Linked DNA regions of Homo sapiens: regions 2 and 3 are each linked to region 1. A link means that fine-mapping ties the variant in region 1 to the expression of a gene that starts in the linked region. Tissue or cell type: whole blood. Region 1 holds a variant in brackets; each other region holds the start of a gene. All regions are shown on one strand. Distances are between the middles of the regions.

Region 1 (5,000 bases):
CCTAAATCCACAGCCAGTCAGCTATGTGTTCATTCATTCATTCAATAGACTTAACAAGCAGCTGCAGCAGGCATAACCAACAGCCAGGAAAAATGAAGAGACAGTCATTTTCCCACTTTTAGTGCCAAGTCTCCAGTTCAGAATCCTCCATTTTTTGCCTAGCTCGGAAGCGGAAGTCAAGGGTGAAATAAACGAAGTCCCCAGCTAAGGAGTTAATGACTTAATGCAAAAATTTTCCTTCGGAGCATTAACATTTTAAAAGTAAGAACCAGGCAAGGGCAATGCAAAACCCAAAGGAATTAATCTTTAATAGAAGACTTTAAGACGTTGTAGCTAGAAGGCAAGAAAATTAGCTTTTATTAACACCAGCAAGGTAATTTTCACTCCATCTACTGACTGCCGCTCTACCAAATGCCACAGATCTGTGCCAGAGAAGAAAACCAAACTCCTGCTCCCAATACCAATTGGATTTTCCCACGTGAAGTGGAGGTAATGGATTTAACAGGTTAAGAAATATTAAAGACCAAATCAATGAGTTTTTTTCCAATCAAAAGTTTTAAATGTACTTGGAGGAAACCTAACACTGAAAATTTAAATGCTGCTGGGCACGGTGGTTCATGCCTATAATCCCAGCACTTTGGGAGGTCAAGGTGAACAGATTGCTAGAGTCCAGGAGTTTGAGACCAGCCTGGGCAACATGGTGAAACCCCGTCTCTATAAAAAACACAAAAATTAGCAGCTGGGTGCAGTGGCTCACGCCTGTAATCCCAGCACTTTGGGAGGCCAAGACTGGTGGATCACTTGAGGTCAGGAGTTCGAGACCAGCCCGGCCAAAATGGTGAAACCCCGTCTCTACTAAAAATACAAAAATTAGCCGGGCGTGGAGGTGCACGCCTATAATACCAGCTATTCAGGAGGCTGAGGCAGGAGAATTGCTTGAGCCCGGGAGGTGGAAGTTGCAGTGAGCCAAGACTGCGCCACTGCACTCCAACCTGATCAATAGAGTGAGACTCTGTATGAAAACAAACAACAACAACAACAACAAATATATATATATATATATATATATATATATATATATATATATATATGAATTAGCAGAGAGTGTGGTGGCATGCACCTGTAGTCTGAGCTACTTGGGAGGCTGAGGTTAGAGGATCATCTGAGCCCAGGGGATCGAGGCTGCAGTGAGCTGCGATTGCACCACTGCACTGCAGCCTGGGCAACAGAGCGAGACTGTTTCCAAAAAAAAGAAAGAAAAGAAAAGAAAAGAAAAAGAAAATTTAAATGCTTAAAGAAACAGGTTATACGTTTCAAAATTCTATGAATGCAGGTAGTCCACATTTAAGTCACCCCACGTGTTCAAATAACTAGTTGTAACCCAGCTTCATCAGGAACTCTCTGGGAAAACAGCAACCAAGCTTTCCTGGTCTGACAGTGACCACTAGTGGCTGGCAGGGGAATGGCATTATCTAACTCTCTTCTGTGAGGCTGCCACCCTTTTTCCTTTTTTAGGGGGATTGTGAGGTTGTTTATACATGGTTTACCTCCTTACTGTTTTCTACCATTCCTGGCTACTTAATTTCTAATAGGCAAACAAAAGCCCTAAATCCCACAGTTGATAGAAATTGTCCCTCTTTTCAACACAGAAGCAAAAAAAAAAAAAAATTCTGTCCATAATTGTTATGTGAAAGAACACTTACTAAATCAGGGGCAATGCAACTCATAAAATTAAGTGAAATGGACACAATAAAGAGGATCCATTTTCAAAGTCCCTTCAAATAGTCTCCATGCCACTTGAAAATATTTAGGTCGTCTTAGCCATCTCAGCTACCTCATCTTTCAATTAAGCTTGCTTAAGATTAACTCTTAAAATTAACTATCTCATGTAAATGTACTGTTGTTTTCCTAAATAACTGGCGTTCTAATGGCTAGTTTCTCTTTACTTCTAATGCAGGACTTAAATAAGCTTCTGTAGGGGACTTTGTAAATCAATAAAGCACCAACTGCATTTTATTTACAAGTGCTGGAAAGAGGAGTAAGAGAGGGCTAAGAGGTAAGGAGTAGGCTGGGTGCGGTGGCTCATGCTGTAATCCCAGCACTTTTGGCGGGCAGATCACGAGGTCAGGAGTTCCAGACCAGCCTGACCAACATGCTGAAACCACGTCTCTACTAAAAATACAAAAATTAGCCAGGTGTGGTGGCGTGC[G/A]CCTGTAATCCCAGCTACTCAGGAGGCTGAGGCAGAAGAATCCCTTGAACCTGGGAGGCAGAAGATTGCAGTGAGCCGAGATTGCGCCACTGCACTCCAGCCTGGGTGACGGAGCGAGACTCCATCTCAAAAACCAAAAACAACAACGACAACAACAACAACAACAAAAAAGGGAAGGCGTAATATGGACCCACTCCTGGGAGATAATTTATGGATAACAACAAGCTGTGGGATCCTAAATGTTCAACTTCATCTTGGGCTCCACAGCCAAACCAGCCAGAACTTGGGCTTGAAGCTGGACGTAGGGAAGAGAACCCTCAGAACTGCCACTTAGACTCCGGACACCTGCACTTTCAAGGGCTTTTCACCCCACCTCCCTCGGCCAGGGCCCAGTTTAGAACAGGCAATTACTCCAAATCAGCAAATATTGACTGTGCGCCTGGGAAGGAAAGGCCCTGTTGTTCCCAGAGCTGTGGAAAATACAAACATGAACAAACGTAGTCCCTGACTTGATGGCATTTAAAATCTATCAAGAGAGATAAGGTAGGTACTCACAAAAATTACACAAGGAAGAATATGATTAAGGGCCACACAACGGAATTTACCTGCAGGAGAGAGACAGGGGCTACAGGAACACAGAAGAGAAACAGGCAGAGTAGAGAAAGACTGTTCCGCAGAGTTTTACTCAGAATCTAATAAAAAAACATACCAGGTCCCAGACACTGCCAAGAGACAGGGACACCCAAAAGCTAAGCCCTGAAGAATGTGAGGAAGGACTGAGCAGGTGAAGGGAACAAGGAGAGGGACGTGCAAGGCAGAAAAGATGGTGTGAATCAAAGCCCTTTGAGCCCAAGTCCAGAGCAAGTTAAAAAAGAATTCAGTTTGCCAAGTATCAGCTGAGTCTGCAAAGGGAGGCTGCAGCTGCTGGCTGACACATTGGAAATGCTACAGGGGTGGGGCTGGGGGCATTATCCTAAAGGCAACAGGCAGCCACTGAAGGCTGCTTTTAGCATCATGGGGGCATAGCCAGGGTTGCGCTTTTAGGAAAAGAGTCTGGCAAAAATGCACAGGCAATCGATTTGTTGGGGGGCACATTCATTCCAGTTTAAAGGTCAAGGCCAAAGGTAAAGCCATAATGGCCAGCTCTGAAAGATCCTTTCCAAAAAACAATCGAAGGACTGGTTGGATGGCGGAGGTGGGGGAAAAGGATACTAAAGCCCATACTACAAGTTCAAATCTAACAGGCATGTCATTACAGAAAACCAAGCCAGGGACCAATGTCACTCATTCTTCTTGATCCATCTTGCCCTAGAAATACTTGCCTGTACCCTGCTGGCTCCAAGAAGCCCACAGGCACTTGGGCTAGGGTCAGGAAAGCTTCACAGCTCTCTGTCCCTAAGCCCCCACCTCCAGTTTCCCCCTGATTTTGTGGTTGGTGACCAGCAACTTCCTTCTGCACCTGACCCTTCAAGTCTTGCTTCTCCTGCCAACCCCCTCAATATAGAAACTTTCAAGGAATGAGAGAGGAGCCTGTACCTGCCCCTCACCGCATCCAGGTACCATGCTGCTGCCCAGCAGCCAGGCTGCTGCTTTTAGTAAGTTGCTGAGTAACTTAACAGCCTCAGAGGAAACAACCTGGTCCCATCCTGAAATATCTTATTTCTCTGGTTCCCCCAGAAATGGAAGGGCAGGTGGGAAGACAGAAATACATGGACTCAGGTGGGAAACCTGGGCTTTCTGGGCGTGGCTCTCATCCACTGCCTAGGACAGGGACCCTCAGAGAGTTAAAGAGAAGCTCAGAAGAGCACAGCTCCAGCCCTCTGATGCCGGGAGTGCACATTCAGCCAATGCCTTTTTTTTTTCTTTTTTTGAGACGGAGTCTCGCTCTGTCGCCCAGGCTGGAGCGCAGTGGCGTGATCTCGGCTCACTGCAAGCTCCGCCTCCCAGGTTCATGCCATTCTCCTGCCTCAGCCTCCCGAGTAGCTGGGACTACAGGCGCCCGCCACCACGCCCGGCTAATTTTTTCTATTTTTAGTAGAGACGGGGTTTCACCGTGTTAGCTAGGATGGTCTCAATCTCCTGACCTCGTGATCCGCCCGCTTCGGCCTCCCAAAGTGCTGGGATTACAGGCGTGAGCCACTGCGCCCAGCCTTTTTTTTTTTCTTGAGACGAAGCTTCACTCTTGTTGCCCAGACTGGAGTGCAATGGCATGATCTCGGCTCACTGCAACCTCCAACTCCCAGGTTCAAGCAATTCTCCTGCCTCAGCCTCCCGAGTAGCTGGGATTACAGGTGCCCACCACCATGCCCAACTAATTTTTGTATTTTTAGTAGAGACAGGGTTTCACTATGTTGGCCAGGCTGGTCTCAAACTCCTGACCTAAGGTGATCCACCTACCTCAGCCTCTCAAAGTGCTGGGATTACAAGTGTGAGCCACCGTTCCCGGCCCAATGCCACCTTTTAAGATGGTGGCTAAGGGACTGACAAGATGGACTCAGCTCTGGTCAGAGGCTTTTCCTCAGGACCCTGGAGGAAACTTCTGCCTCCTGTGGGTCCCCAGACCCTGCACTAAGACTGAGCCTTCTGATCCCTGAACGTTCAAATCATGTCCGTGTCTCCCCTCCAGGGCTGTAAGGTCTTTGAAGCTGGTGAACAAGACTTCTAGAATCCACTGCCACAGCTGGTGCTGTGCCTGAACACAGTGGGCATTTGGAAGTCACCTCTGGATGGTCCCAGGTGCATTTCTCCACACCCAGGGTTGTCCCCTCCATGTTGGAGTTGCATCTTCTGC
Region 2 (6,255 bases), 230 kb after region 1:
GCCACTGCTCTCCAGTCTGGGCAACAGAGTGACATTCCATGTCAAAAAAAAAAAAAAAAAAAAAAGAAAGAAAAAACAGAAGGCAATTCTGACACATGCTTGAGGACATGTGAAGAGAAGCCAGTCACAAAAGGTCAAATATGCAATAGCAGACCCACTTGTATGGGGTATCCAGAGCAGTCACATTCAGGGACAAATTGGAAGGTGGTTGCCAGGGGCTGGGGAAGAATGGGGAGCTGGTGTTTAACAGAGGGAGTTTCAGTTTGGGAAGATAAAGTTCTGGAGATGGGCGGTGATGGTGGCAGCTGCTCAACAATGTGTATTTACTGAATGCCACTGAACTGTACAATTATGCTTTGTTGCCCAGCCCGGAGTGCAGTAGCATAATCGTGGCTCACTATAGCCTCAATTTCCTGGATTCAAGCAATCCTACCTCAGCCTCCTGAGTAGCTAGGACCACCAGCACACGCCCGGCTAACTTTTTTCTTTTATAGAGACAGGGTCTCACTATGATGCCCAGGCTAGTCTCATCCATCTGCCTCAGTCTCCCAAAGTGCTGGGATTACAGATGGGAACCACCATACCCAGTGTAAATGGTAACTTTTACGCTATGCCTATTACACGTTAAAAATTAATACAACCATTTTAAAAAGTTTTTTCAACAAACAGCTACTGACACTTTACTGTCCCCAGGGGACTGTGACCACTACCTTTAAAGCCACATCATCTAAAATGAAGGTTCCCAATTTTTTTTGTGAGACAGTCTCGCTCTGTCACCCAGGCTGGAGTGCAGTGAGACAATCTCAGCTCACTGCAACCTCCGTCTCCTTGGTTCAACTGATTCTCCTGCCTCAGCCTCCTGAGTAGCTGGGACTGCAGGCGTGTGCCACCATGCCTGGCTAATTTTTTTATTTTTAGTAGAAATGGGGTTTTGCCATGTCGCCCAGGTTGGTCTTGAACTCCTGGTTCAAGCGATCTGTCCGCTTTGGCCTCCCAAAGTGCTGGAATTATAGGCATGAGCCACCACGCCCGGACCACCACCCTTTTAAAACACAATCAAACGGTGGTGTCGTGTTTAACTTGCTGAGAAGGGTAAGTTACCTGCAGGTAGAGTTGGGCTTCAAACTAGGCAGTGACCCCATATGGTCTGAAATAAAACTGACCTGATAACCTCATCTCTTTACACAAAACACTAGCCAACAGTCATCATTCCCACCAGATGCTATTTGTCCCCACAGGTGGTCACTACCTCAAAGGTGACAGCCTGTTTTGGGTAATGGGGACACAAATATGACCCCCATCTCTGCCTACCCCCAACTCATTGAAAGACTCTCCCTGTACACCAACCACCGTCTGGCACCACGGCTGGCAGAGCATTAGAGACGGCTGGTGTCTTAGCCCACCTTAACAGGCCTGTCCCATGCAACCTCACTTCCACATGTGACCTGATTCTCAGTCAGCTGAAAAAAGATGACTGGGTTAAAGTAACAACATAACTCAAGACCTAGCTTGTATCAAACACAAGCCCCCCCAATCTCCTTCAAGTATCACAAAGGAGTAACACAACTACCTCTCACACTTGGTGTAAAAATTTAAGTAAGTGGGCAGCAGAGATTGGCACCTATCCATCGAAAACCTGCTGTTTAAGGTTTTTCATTAATCACCTTCTTTCCCCTGTATGTACAAGCTGGGAAACAGACCTATGACAGTCCAACTTAAACTCTGTGACTTTACAATGGTGGTAATGCGATATACATTCAGTAGAAGCCCTGCTTCAAATTTTGATCTTGGCGGGGCACAGTGGCTCACACCTGTAATCCCAGCACTCTGGGAGGCGGAGGCAGGTGGATCATCTGAGGTTAGGAGTTCGAGACCAGCCTGGCCAACATGGTGAAACTCTGTCTCTACCAAAAACACAAAAATCAGCTAGGCATGGTGGCGCGCCCAGCTACTTTGAGGCAGGGGGATCGCTTGAACCTGGGAGGCGGTAATTGCAGTGAGCCAAGATCGCACCACTGCAATCCAGCCTGGGCGACAGAGCCAGACTGTCTCAAAGAAAAAAAAAAATTTTTTTAAATATTTTTCTGGATTAGATAGGTATGATACCTTCTGACACTGGCCAGCGACCACAGGATCACGAGGTAAACGACCATACTACACAGTGTGCCGTGCTCGATACATTACATGCAAATATCCAGCACTTTATTACAAAATGGATTTTGTGTTAAGATTTTGCACAACTGCAGAGAACCTAAACAGTGTTTATGGGACGTGTGTTTTGAGGCTTTCGCGGAGTGGAGATTCCGTTCCGACAATTTACTATATTATACGAAAGAAAACTGAACTCAGGGCGGCCTCTGAGATGATCGCGATTAGCTAAAGATGGTCCTAGAAATTCCAGGGCCTCAACGTGCCCCCCACAGGTCTTTCTCATGGGAAACAGGATGAAACCACTGCTCCCAGAGGGCCAGGCACACACCCAGACGGCCTAACCGTCTCCTGCCTGACATTCCGGGGAAGACGCTCCCGGAGCGGTGCCAGGCTAGGCACCGCTCTTCTTGAACCTTCGGAGCAACCACTTACATTTGGCATCCTTTCGTCGGGCTGTGAGCAGGAAGTCCTTGATTTCCTCAATTTTCCGAGGCTGCAACACAAAGGAAGCGGGTGAACAGAGAGGAAAGAGACACGTCTCCCGGCGATGGCCCAGTCCACCAGCTTCTCCCGGCCTCAGGAGATCCTTGGGAGGCTCTCTCGCCCTCGCCCCGGGGCCCCACGAGCCCACCCCGGGAAGGCGCCAGGCAGGGACTGTACTCACCATGGCGACGAGGCGCGCTGGGCTCTGGCGCGGACCAGGACCTGCGGGAAACAGTCCTCGGCGTTAACACGGCGCGGGGGCTGGCAGCGAACCCCGTTTTCCCGCTCTCCCCCGAAATATCGGCCCCATCGCACTCCCCTTCTCCTCCCCGACACCCTCCACGCGGACCTGGGGTCCCCAGATTTCACCTGGCAGTGGATTGCCCCAGATTACCTTTCTCACCCACGTATCACCCTAGAGACACTCACAGCAAGCAGCAACCGGGGAAAAGGACGAAAAAGAACGAGACTTCCGTTTCCGGGCAGTTAAACCCTCCCAACGGAGGAAACTGGGTACGGTGCCTGCCGAGGATCAAGACTCATGTAGGCGTTCGCACTTCCAATTTCAGCAGCCCTGCCCCCTTGTGGTCGAAGTCAACAGTGCAGCTCCAAGAATGGAATGGACCATCCTGGCTGCCGCCCTCCCTCCGCCTCCCTCCTCTCGCTCCTCCCCATCCCTTCCTCCTAGGACCCCCGCCTCTTCCCCGTCCACCCCTTCCTGTCTTCCCCCGCAACCCCTCAGACCCCAGCCTGGCTTTGCTAGGTTTTAGCTCAGATTCAGTTTGAAGAGCTAACGCTTATTCTCCACGGCTTTCATTGGACCTGCGCAGGGGCATCCACACAGAAAATTCTTCATTCAATGGCAGGGACCCTCGTGTGCACCTTGTAGAACCTGTTGTTCTGGCGCCTCACGTTTTCTTCCCGTCTCCTTTTTGGCACCTGAACCTGTCATGACCAGGGCCCTGGGCTCTTCTTTCCATAAGAGGGAGCGTTCCTGCTTGCTGCTTCCAATTCCCTTAGGAATTGGTGTACAATGAAAGCAAGTTAAGGCCGGGCGCGGTGGCTCACGCTTATAACCCCAGCACTGGGGGAGGCCGAGGCAGGCGGATCGCTTGAGGCCAGGAGTTCGAGAGCAGCCTGGGCAACCTAGTAAGACCTCCCCCCCCCCATCTCTAGCAATAATGATAATAATAATAATACTTCCAAAAGCTGTCGCAGCGCTGCCCCTGGCTAAGTGTCTCACCCCTAGGGCTGATGGTGAGTGGGAGTGCTCCTGCTCTTGCGGGGTCTCACCGCGGCCCCAGAGGGGAGAGGTGGACTCAGGAGTTGAACCCCTGCTGGGCAGATTCCCCAGCCCAGGCTCCGGCCACTTCCTGGGGAGGCTTGGGAAGCCTGGGGAGGGCAGCGTTCCTTTCTCCCCCTAACATCCTTTAGGTTAGACTCTGAGCAACCTGCGGTTATCGATTTTATTTTTATCCTCCATTTTTATTTTATCTCCAACCTCCCTACAAATGTCTACATTTTATTATATTTGTTTCCCCAAAATTTAATAACCACACGGCAGAATGTAATTGCTTCGTGCTTATTATTACAGAGCGGCCCTCCTGAAGGGAAAGAACACTTTGCCATGAGCTTTACTTAGAACTTATTTAACTTAACCTTCCTTTCTTCCTCCCTCCTGCCCTTCCATTAACAAGCTCAGGCTGAGCACCTTCCTGGGGGTGCTGGAGATACAGGAACCAATAGACCTTGCTGCAGAGAGATCACAAAAATATTGTAATAACACTGAAGAGTCTTTTAAAGAAGCTGAACGATGTCTCTGCAACTGTAAATGTGTCGGGGTTCTAGCAGTGGGAAAAGTTAATTGGCAGAAGCCTAATTTTAGATGTCTGAAGGTCGGATCCGATCTGAGAAGCACGAGTGCTTCAGCTCTGACCTGAGAAGGATTTTCCCATACCTCAGAGCCCGGCTTTGCCAGCCCTTCCCATCTCAGGCGATGCCTTTCTGGTCTTTTCTACCCCACTGCTCCTCCACAAGCAACCACCCTTTCAGCCAAGCCGAGGGGCACTTTTGGGCACTTTCTGCCCTCCAGGTATTTGCTCTGCTGTCCACTCTGATGCCAAGTGCCACTGGTCCTTCCGAGCTCAGCTCCCGCCTCCCCTTTTTCAGGCAGGACCCTTCACCCTTGACTTATGTTGCTTGCCGCTCATACAGTGGTTCCTTGCAATCACTTCTCCGTAGGCTGCGTGGAGGTGTTTAACTTTTCATACATGCGCACCACTCTTTTTATTTTTAATTTTTTAAAACTTTTTTAGAGACATGGTCTCCCTAGGTTGCCCAAGCTGGTTTCGAACTCCTGGGCTCAAGGGATCCTCCTGCCTCGGCCCCCCAAAGTGCTAGGATAACAGGTGTGAGCCACTACGCCCCACCTTACCACTTTTCCTTGAAGGCAAGGACAGGGCTCAGCATTCTGTCGATAACTCTCGAAGTGCAGTACCCATCTGTACAGTAAGTGCTCAATGCTAACATTGCAGGATGATCCGGCTGGATGCGGCATCTGAGATCACTCACCATATAAAGGGGTGGTGGATGGAGGGAGGAATTCAGGGAGAGCCAGAAGGAGACACTGACGTGCCTGAAGCAGTGCCTGGCATGTAGTAGGTCCAAAAACTATTTGTTGAATGAATGACTGGTGCTTCTTGCCTCACTGCCGGCCCGACAGGACAAGGACGGGGATAGAAGGAGGAGCTGCACCTCCCTTTTGGCAGCGATCCCAGGGAGACAGATGTTCACCCTCTTGAGTTGTATAATTTAAGGGACCATAGACGTGTAGTAGCAAAACACAATGGCAAATTTGTTCAAGTACCAAAGACCTCCAGCTCCCCAAGGGGGACAAATAGCAAAATAAGCTGCAGCTACTAAAAGTGAGGCAAGGTGCCCAGAGGGCACGCTTCCCTGCTCCATGGGAAGATGAGCCCCAAATGTCCTGGAGTGGCCGGGGACTGTCAGAGACCAAGGGGGGCAGAGCCTAGGCCCTGAGTGCCACAGCCTGAGACCTTGAGCAGATGCTGACCTGGACATGAGCCTCCCTGATGACTCCCATATACACATGAAACAAAACTCTCCAGGGCCTAGGGTGGATCCTGCAGGAGAGGAAAGCCCCGGACTCGAGGGCAGGATGGCCCAGGCTGCCTGTTATGGTCGCTCTGGCCATTGGTAGGCTGGAATGTCCAGTGCTGGCAGCTGTGGGATGGTGAGGGCTATTGCTGTTGTCAAGAGGCGGTAGGGAGGGTCTCAAGCAGTGTGTTGCAGCATGGCTGGAGGCAGGAGAGGCTCAGAGGGCATGTCCGGAGCTACAGGACACAATCCAACCCTTTTCCTTCCTTCCCTTCCCTCACTCTGCTGGCTCTGGGCAGAGAGGGCCTCAGAAGTCACCGGGCCTCCCCTCCTCCCTCCAGCAGCCCCACTCTGGCCACCTCTGAAGGCCAAATGGTTTAGAGTTCTCTCTTCAGTTTTCAGGGACACATTGGAAAGAGGACCAGGATGGGTCAAAAAAACCCCAATGCCCCAGCTCGCAGGTGGGCAGAGGGCTGGCACGGCACATGGCTGGGAAGACTTCCC
Region 3 (6,255 bases), 220 kb after region 1:
TGCCCATTCCCTTCTCCCCAACACTGCCCAGTGGACACCGGCTGGCTGCAGTCTTCTCCTTCCTAAGCAGTGATTGTAGCAGTTTCCAGTGTGCCAGGCACTGGCCACAGGCTTCATAATCCATGAACTCATTAGTTCTTTTATCATCTCTTTAGAGTAGGAATCGTCTCCAAATCCAATCCCCCTCATCTGTCAAAGGTGAGAAGACTTGGGCTGCAGGTCTAGGCTGATTTCCTTCCAGACATACAGCCACATCTGGCAGCCCAGAGCTGGGTGCCCGCCAGGGCCAAGGTGCCCTCGTCCACAGCCCTGCCTTGGTGCTCACCTCTCATGCCTCTACTCACTGGAGGGTAGCCTCCCCACAAGGCTGGTGACACAGGCCAAGTGGCCTTTGCGAGGACTTGGGCTCAAGTTCACTGGGGGGAGAGGGGTGAGGATCAACTATCAGGAGGACTGGGGGCTTTCACGGCTCCCAAACACCCCAGAAAGTGAGTGAGAGCCCCTACTTCCTCAGGAAGGTTCTGGAACACTGAACTTGCTCAGGAAATCCCAGCTCACCAGGTGACCTGCTCTTCACCATCTCTGCACTTCCAAGAACCCCCTTGCCTTTGAGATCCCCCGCACCACCCACATCCTAAGGCCAGCACCTGCCTGTTTCCATCCTTGCTTAGTCTCTGATGCACACGCACCCACCCCCCACACCCCACACAGCCAGCACTGTGCATTTGAACATGTGGGGCATGAGCTGAAGCCCTTTCTGCAGGCGTTTTGTTCAGTCTCCCCCAATCAGAGTCTGTGGAAGAGATCTCCTTCCTCTCCATTCCCCAGCAGGGTACTGTCCTGAGACACACTCCTGAACCTCTCAGCCACTCCATTGAATGATCTGTGTCACTGGCTCCTGTTATGTGCTATGGGACTCTCTGTACTAGGCATGATATGTGGAATATCTCATCTAATTCTTGCAGATGAAGGGAACAAGGCTCAGAGAGGTTAAGACACCTACCCGTGGTCACACATGGAAAGAACTGGGAATCCACCCCAGCCAACTGGAGGGCAGAGCCCCACCTCAAACTGCTTGGTGTCTGCCATAGCACTGCGCCCAGAGCCCAGCCGCAGAAAATCCCCAGCAATTTCTCCTGAAGACCTGCTGCCTTGGTTACCACGGTCACCCCACGCCTGGCATAGCACTTGCTCCAGTCAAGCTTGCTGAAGACTGGGATGACCGACGGTCCACCTGACTCTGTTAGTGACTGGTGCTCAGGAGGAAAGAAGACATCCAGGAGAGACCTGTGGTCACAACAGGGGAACTTACCAAAAACAGGAGCCACCTTAAATAACACCCAGAGCCAGACTTCCGGTCCTGGCCCACCACGCTCATCTCCTACTCAGCGATCTGAGTGGTGGTGAGGGGGTGAGCGGGACCAGGAGCCAGTGGGCAGGGCTGGTGTCAGCTGCCCAGGAGCAGTGGCCGATGGGAAGGGACACCCTCTGGAACCATTTGATGCCCAGCACAAAGTGAGCCGGGGCCAGAATCCTGGGAGGAGGGGCAGAGGCTGGAGGTAGGTTCATCTGGCTCAACTGCCACCTGCCCATGGGACTGAGGGGGCTGTGGGCAGGCCCAGGATCCACCAGCCACAGCTGTTGGGCTGATAGGAACTGTCTCTGGGGCCATCAGGGTGAGGGAGTCCCCTTACCATCCCTACCCCCACCTAGGGGTCTTCTTGACCCAATGAAAAGTTTAGATTTCCTCCAGTGGAGAGGAGAAAACTATGGCTGGAGACCCCGGGTGTGGGATGTGGGGCACAGGGTTTGGGATGGGGACACACACACACACACACACACACACACACACACGGCTGTTTCTGAAATCATATCCGCCTCTTTTCATGCATTCTCTGGGAGAGGAAGATTCCCTGGAGCTATCCCCAGGCAGCCACATTCTCAGGGAACACAGACTCCCACAGGCTGGGCTCTGGGGGAGGGGGGTGGGTCCACCGACTGCCGTCTTGCTCCTGAGTGCCCACTGAACCCCAGGAAGGGGTCCTGATGCTCCCCTCCCTCTGGTAGGGCAGGCACCATCTGCCTGGGCCTGATGGCAGCCGGGTCGTCAGGGGTTATTATTAGACTCCCTGTCACTGGCGCTTGGGCACCTCACACTGGATCAGGATTCCCTCCAAGAGGCCCTGCTTTGCCCTGATCTGTCCCATATCTGGAGAACTTGACACAGGGAGAGGCCGCCGGGGGCCAAAGTCCTGAGATGGGCGCCTGGCTCTGAATAAATGGACCTCATCCTGGTCCACTGGCCCCAGAATCTTTGACCCAACACAAGGAACTGATACAGGTGGGCTCCCGGGGCCAGAGCAGGCGTGACCAGACCTGAGACGGGCTGGGAGATTCTGCAGCTTTGTTTGTCTGGGCAGGGAGGTCTGGGGAGCCCTGGCCCTGTTTGTGGGGTGCAGAATCCTGCCAAGGGTCAGCAGAGTAGGGAAAGGGCGGGGAAGCCGGGAGTGACTGCCCTAGGCCAGAAATTCAGGGCTTAAAGGTGTGAGGTAGAGAGAGGGGCGTGGGGGAACAGGAATGGGCCAGTCTAGGACCAGGGGACACAGAGAAGCTGACTGTCAATGCAAGGGGGTCCTCAGGACAACAGTGTGAGATGGGCTGACGGAGGCCACCTTCCTTCCCTGGAACAAGCGCAAGCAGCTGTGGGTTCTCTGCGCTAGAGGGGAAGTGACCCACACCGCTTCCCCAAGCCCTGCAGCCTTCCAGCTGAGACTCCCACCCTGCAGGCCGGGGCTGGGGAGGAGGGGTGCTGCGAAGACCGACTCGGGAGACTCTACTCAGTTTCTGCCAAACTTTCCTAGGCCACTCAGCCCCGGAAAGAGAGCGCCCCATCTTGGAATCTCAGACGGTCGAAAACTTCGGGGCACCCCTCAGCATCCCCGCACCTCGCGCGCCAGGATTACCCCGAGACGAATGCCCCTGTCCTTACCCCTCCCCCGCGCCGCCCTGCCCGCTCAGCGTTCAGCCCCTCACCCCGCAGGCGGTCTTGCGCCCTTCCTCCCCTTCCCCACGCTCGCTTCACTCTGATCTCTTCAGTTTTCCCGGCCCCCAGGTTCCCAGACAGGAGGGGACGCGGGCCACGGGCCTGGGAGGGTGGGGGAAAAGGGGAGAGGGGAGACGGGAAAGGGCTGCGCGGGGAGAGAAGGGGTCTGAGAGGCACGTGGGAAAGTGCAGGCTCTCGAGGGGAGAGGGGGTAGTGCGGGGACTTGGGGCGCGCGTGGCTGCGGTCTGGGGCGGCGTAAACTTACCTCCTGGTAACTCTCGTCGCCGGGGCTGAAGGTGCTGTTCACGGGCTGCAGGCGCAGGCCGACGTGCGGGACGCTGTGCAGCCACACGACCCACCAGGGAGCGATGTAGTCCACGCGCGCCGCCTGCATGGCTCGGCCCGAGTGCTACCCACAAGCTGAACGACAGCTGCGCTCACCTCCCGGCCGGGGCCCCGTGCCCGCCCCGCCCCCGGCCCCGCCTCTCCCTGGGCCCGCGCCCGCCCCGCCCCGCCGCGATCCCAGTCCCAGTTCTGGGCGCGCAGCCCGCTGCAGTCAACAGCCCCTTTCTGGGCGGGGATCTGTCCTGGCCGGATGGGAGGAGGGAAGTGAAAAAAGCTCCCAGAAGTCTCTAAATCAGTTTCAGTCTCGAGGTCCCCGGGCTGCTTCTTATTTATGATCAGATCAAGGGTATAAGGTGTCAGTGGGGGCAGCCAGCAGTCATAGGCCAGAGAGGGGCGACTGCCCGTCCCAAGGGCTTGTCACAGGGTAAGTAACCGACAGACTGGGAAAGGAAGGAGGCAATCTTCAGCCACTCGGTCACTCATTCTAAATTCACTCTCATTTTTTGGGCATCTATTGTGCAAGCCCTGTGGACTTAAAAAGAGAAATAAGACGCCGTCCCTGCCCTCGGGAGCTCCCGGCGCATCTGCCCCAACAACTCGCTGAAGCCGCCTGCAGGACGCCTGAGTGAGGACAAGGTGTCTCACTCAGAAAATTTGCTTGATTCTTCCTGGCAAGTGGGACAGGGTGAGCTTCCCGGAGGAGGGGACCTTCGAGCTGTGTAGCGGGGAAGGTAGGAGAGCGATGAGAGCGCCCGGAAGGGACAAGCATTCGGGGAGACTGAAGCGCATTCAACAACATATTTATTGAGCACCTACTACGTCCAGGCACTGTTACATCGGTGATGTAACAAAAGCCGACAAAAACCCTCACCCCGAGCGCAGGCACCGCAGAGGGCGATGACGACCCGAGAAGATGCCGAACGCAGGCCAGGAGGGGGCTCTGGGGAAAAGCAAAGGCAGGGGAGGTTGCCCATCGGGGAGCCTCGCGTCCCTGGGCCCTCCGTACTCTGCACATATGCAGAGGCCCCCACCCGTCCTGTAACCGCAAACTGCTTGGCGTGACTTGGCCAGCGGAGGGAGGAGCCCAGGCTGCAGGACAAGCAGGAGTCAGGGGTAGGTGCGGTGGAGTGATGGGGTCGCGGCAGATTGGGCGTGGAAACCGCGCTGGGCAGCCAGCCTGAGGGGTGCGTATCCACCGCGGCAGGGACGCGGGTGAGAAAGGAGCCCCGGGAGGACGGGGCGGGGCTCCTAGGGTTCTGGCTGAAGGGACCGGGTGGATGCGGACCGACTGAAAACGCTCGCAAACACATATGGCTGCTGGGGAGTGGGGCCCCAGTCACCCGGTGCTCAAAGGCCCTGTGTCCATTAGAGGAAGTCCTGGCCTCGGGGCCTCTCCTCGTGGCCGTGATCCCACGGTTCTGGGGCCCTGCAGGAGCCCAAAGCTGAGGGGCCCGGAAGGCTGGAAACAGCCATTCTTCTCTCATTGGGGTGTCTTTCAACAAATTTTCTTGAGCACGTTCTCTGTTCTAGAGGATACAGTAATGGATAAAACACACGTTCCCGCCTGCATGGCGTCTACAGCCTAGTAGGCGAGGTGAGGTGGACTTGTATCCTGCAAACAGCGATTGCAGGCCTTGTGAAATGTCAGAGTCCCTGCTGTAGGGAGAGGGGATGGAAGGTGGGCGTCAGGGTTGTTTCCCAAAGGACAGTGACATGAGCTGAAGGATGATCGGGAGTCAAAGAGGGGGGTGCTGGGGGAGGCCTCTGTGCAGAAGGAACAGGACCCTGTGAGATCAGGGACTAAGGCCAGTGGAAGGGGAAGCAAGCAAGTTCCAGAACAGGACAGGGAGCCGGAGAACTGCAGGAGCCAGGCGATCAGCTTGGAGACTGCGGCAGGGGAGGGAACTTCTTTGGGTGAAAACCTCCTTTTAAAAGGTCTTGGTCTCTGACTCAGTCCCTGCAGTTGCTGGGGAAAGTGGACTCTTCTGGTAGCTGCTTTTACAGCCCCTGCCCTCAGAGGCCCCCCAGGTGGGAAGGGCCTGCCTCCTAGGCAGTGGGTGGTCACCGAGGACTGACTTTGAACCCGGGGCAAGGGAGCCCCAGAAGGCTGGAGGCCTGCACACGGCACTGGAAGAAACAAACTGCAAAGGCTGTCCCTCAGGGCTATCTCCACAGCCACCGGAATGCGGCCTGGAATATCCAAACCTGTCAGCCCACCTGCACCCAGCCAGACAGCGACCATTCTAGCTGCTTCCCCGGAGGCCTGCTGACCCAGAGAGGTGTCAAAAAGCTGAAGCACAACAGACAGACCTCCCACAGACTCAGCAGGGAGTTGGAGGACAGTCGGCACACCAGCAGCTGTAGCCCATCACCTCCCCCCTCCCCATTCACCTGGTATGCAGCACTTAAGGGCTTGCTGAAGCCCCAGCAAAGCAGAGGCCCACCTGAGAGCTTGGAAACACACCTATGCCCCAGACCACCGCAATCGCAATCTCCAGTCAGCCCTGGCCACCACAGTGAACTGCCTAAGTGCCCCAGATGACTGAGTCACAAGCCAGGGCTGGGAAGCACTGCATGAAAGGCGGCCTTCTCTAGACAAGGCTGGACACACCCCTGCAAGGCCTGTCTCCTAGGAGCTGGGATGAAACTCTGGACGATGTGCTGGGAACAAAGAAAACCCACATGGTAAAGGCTCGCTTTTCCTTGGGAATCTGCAATGCTTACAGAACGGGAAAGGCTGAAAGCCGCCCACAGTGCCGCACCTGGGCCTGAGGGCTGGTGTACCCACCCTCTCCCGGAGGAAACAAGACCCGTGACCAGACTCAAAACCACCTCACACCCTCACAATCCTTACAGAATATTCAAAG

Evidence for each region. PIP is the estimated chance that this variant, and not a neighbour inherited with it, causes the effect.
Region 2: it holds the start of RPL38, and the variant in region 1 is fine-mapped to the expression of RPL38 in whole blood (INTERVAL, PIP above 0.99).
Region 3: it holds the start of TTYH2, and the variant in region 1 is fine-mapped to the expression of TTYH2 in whole blood (INTERVAL, PIP above 0.99).

The regions. Positions count from the first base shown.
Region 1 is chr17:74,434,298-74,439,297 of GRCh38, reverse strand. The region is part of intron 1 of GPRC5C (G protein-coupled receptor class C group 5 member C); the gene reads right to left. Among named protein-coding and RNA genes, the nearest start is that of GPRC5C, 4.7 kb to the right of the region's middle. The variant G/A (reference allele first, on the strand shown) is at 2,210.
Region 2 is chr17:74,200,519-74,206,773 of GRCh38, reverse strand. It overlaps RPL38 (ribosomal protein L38), which reads right to left and starts at 3,096. Exons shown (of 5, transcript NM_000999.4): 1 at 3,029-3,096; 2 at 2,816-2,856; 3 at 2,584-2,644. The coding sequence starts at 2,818. RefSeq lists enhancers at 1,340-1,843, 1,844-2,348, 3,357-3,860.
Region 3 is chr17:74,210,770-74,217,024 of GRCh38, reverse strand. TTYH2 (tweety family member 2) reads right to left here and starts at 3,454. Exons shown (of 14, transcript NM_032646.6): 1 at 3,309-3,454. The coding sequence starts at 3,437. It overlaps MGC16275 (a long non-coding RNA gene), which reads left to right and starts at 3,704. Exons shown (of 2, transcript NR_026914.1): 1 at 3,704-4,501; 2 at 5,343-6,255. RefSeq lists an enhancer at 1,110-1,159 and a silencer at 3,418-3,577.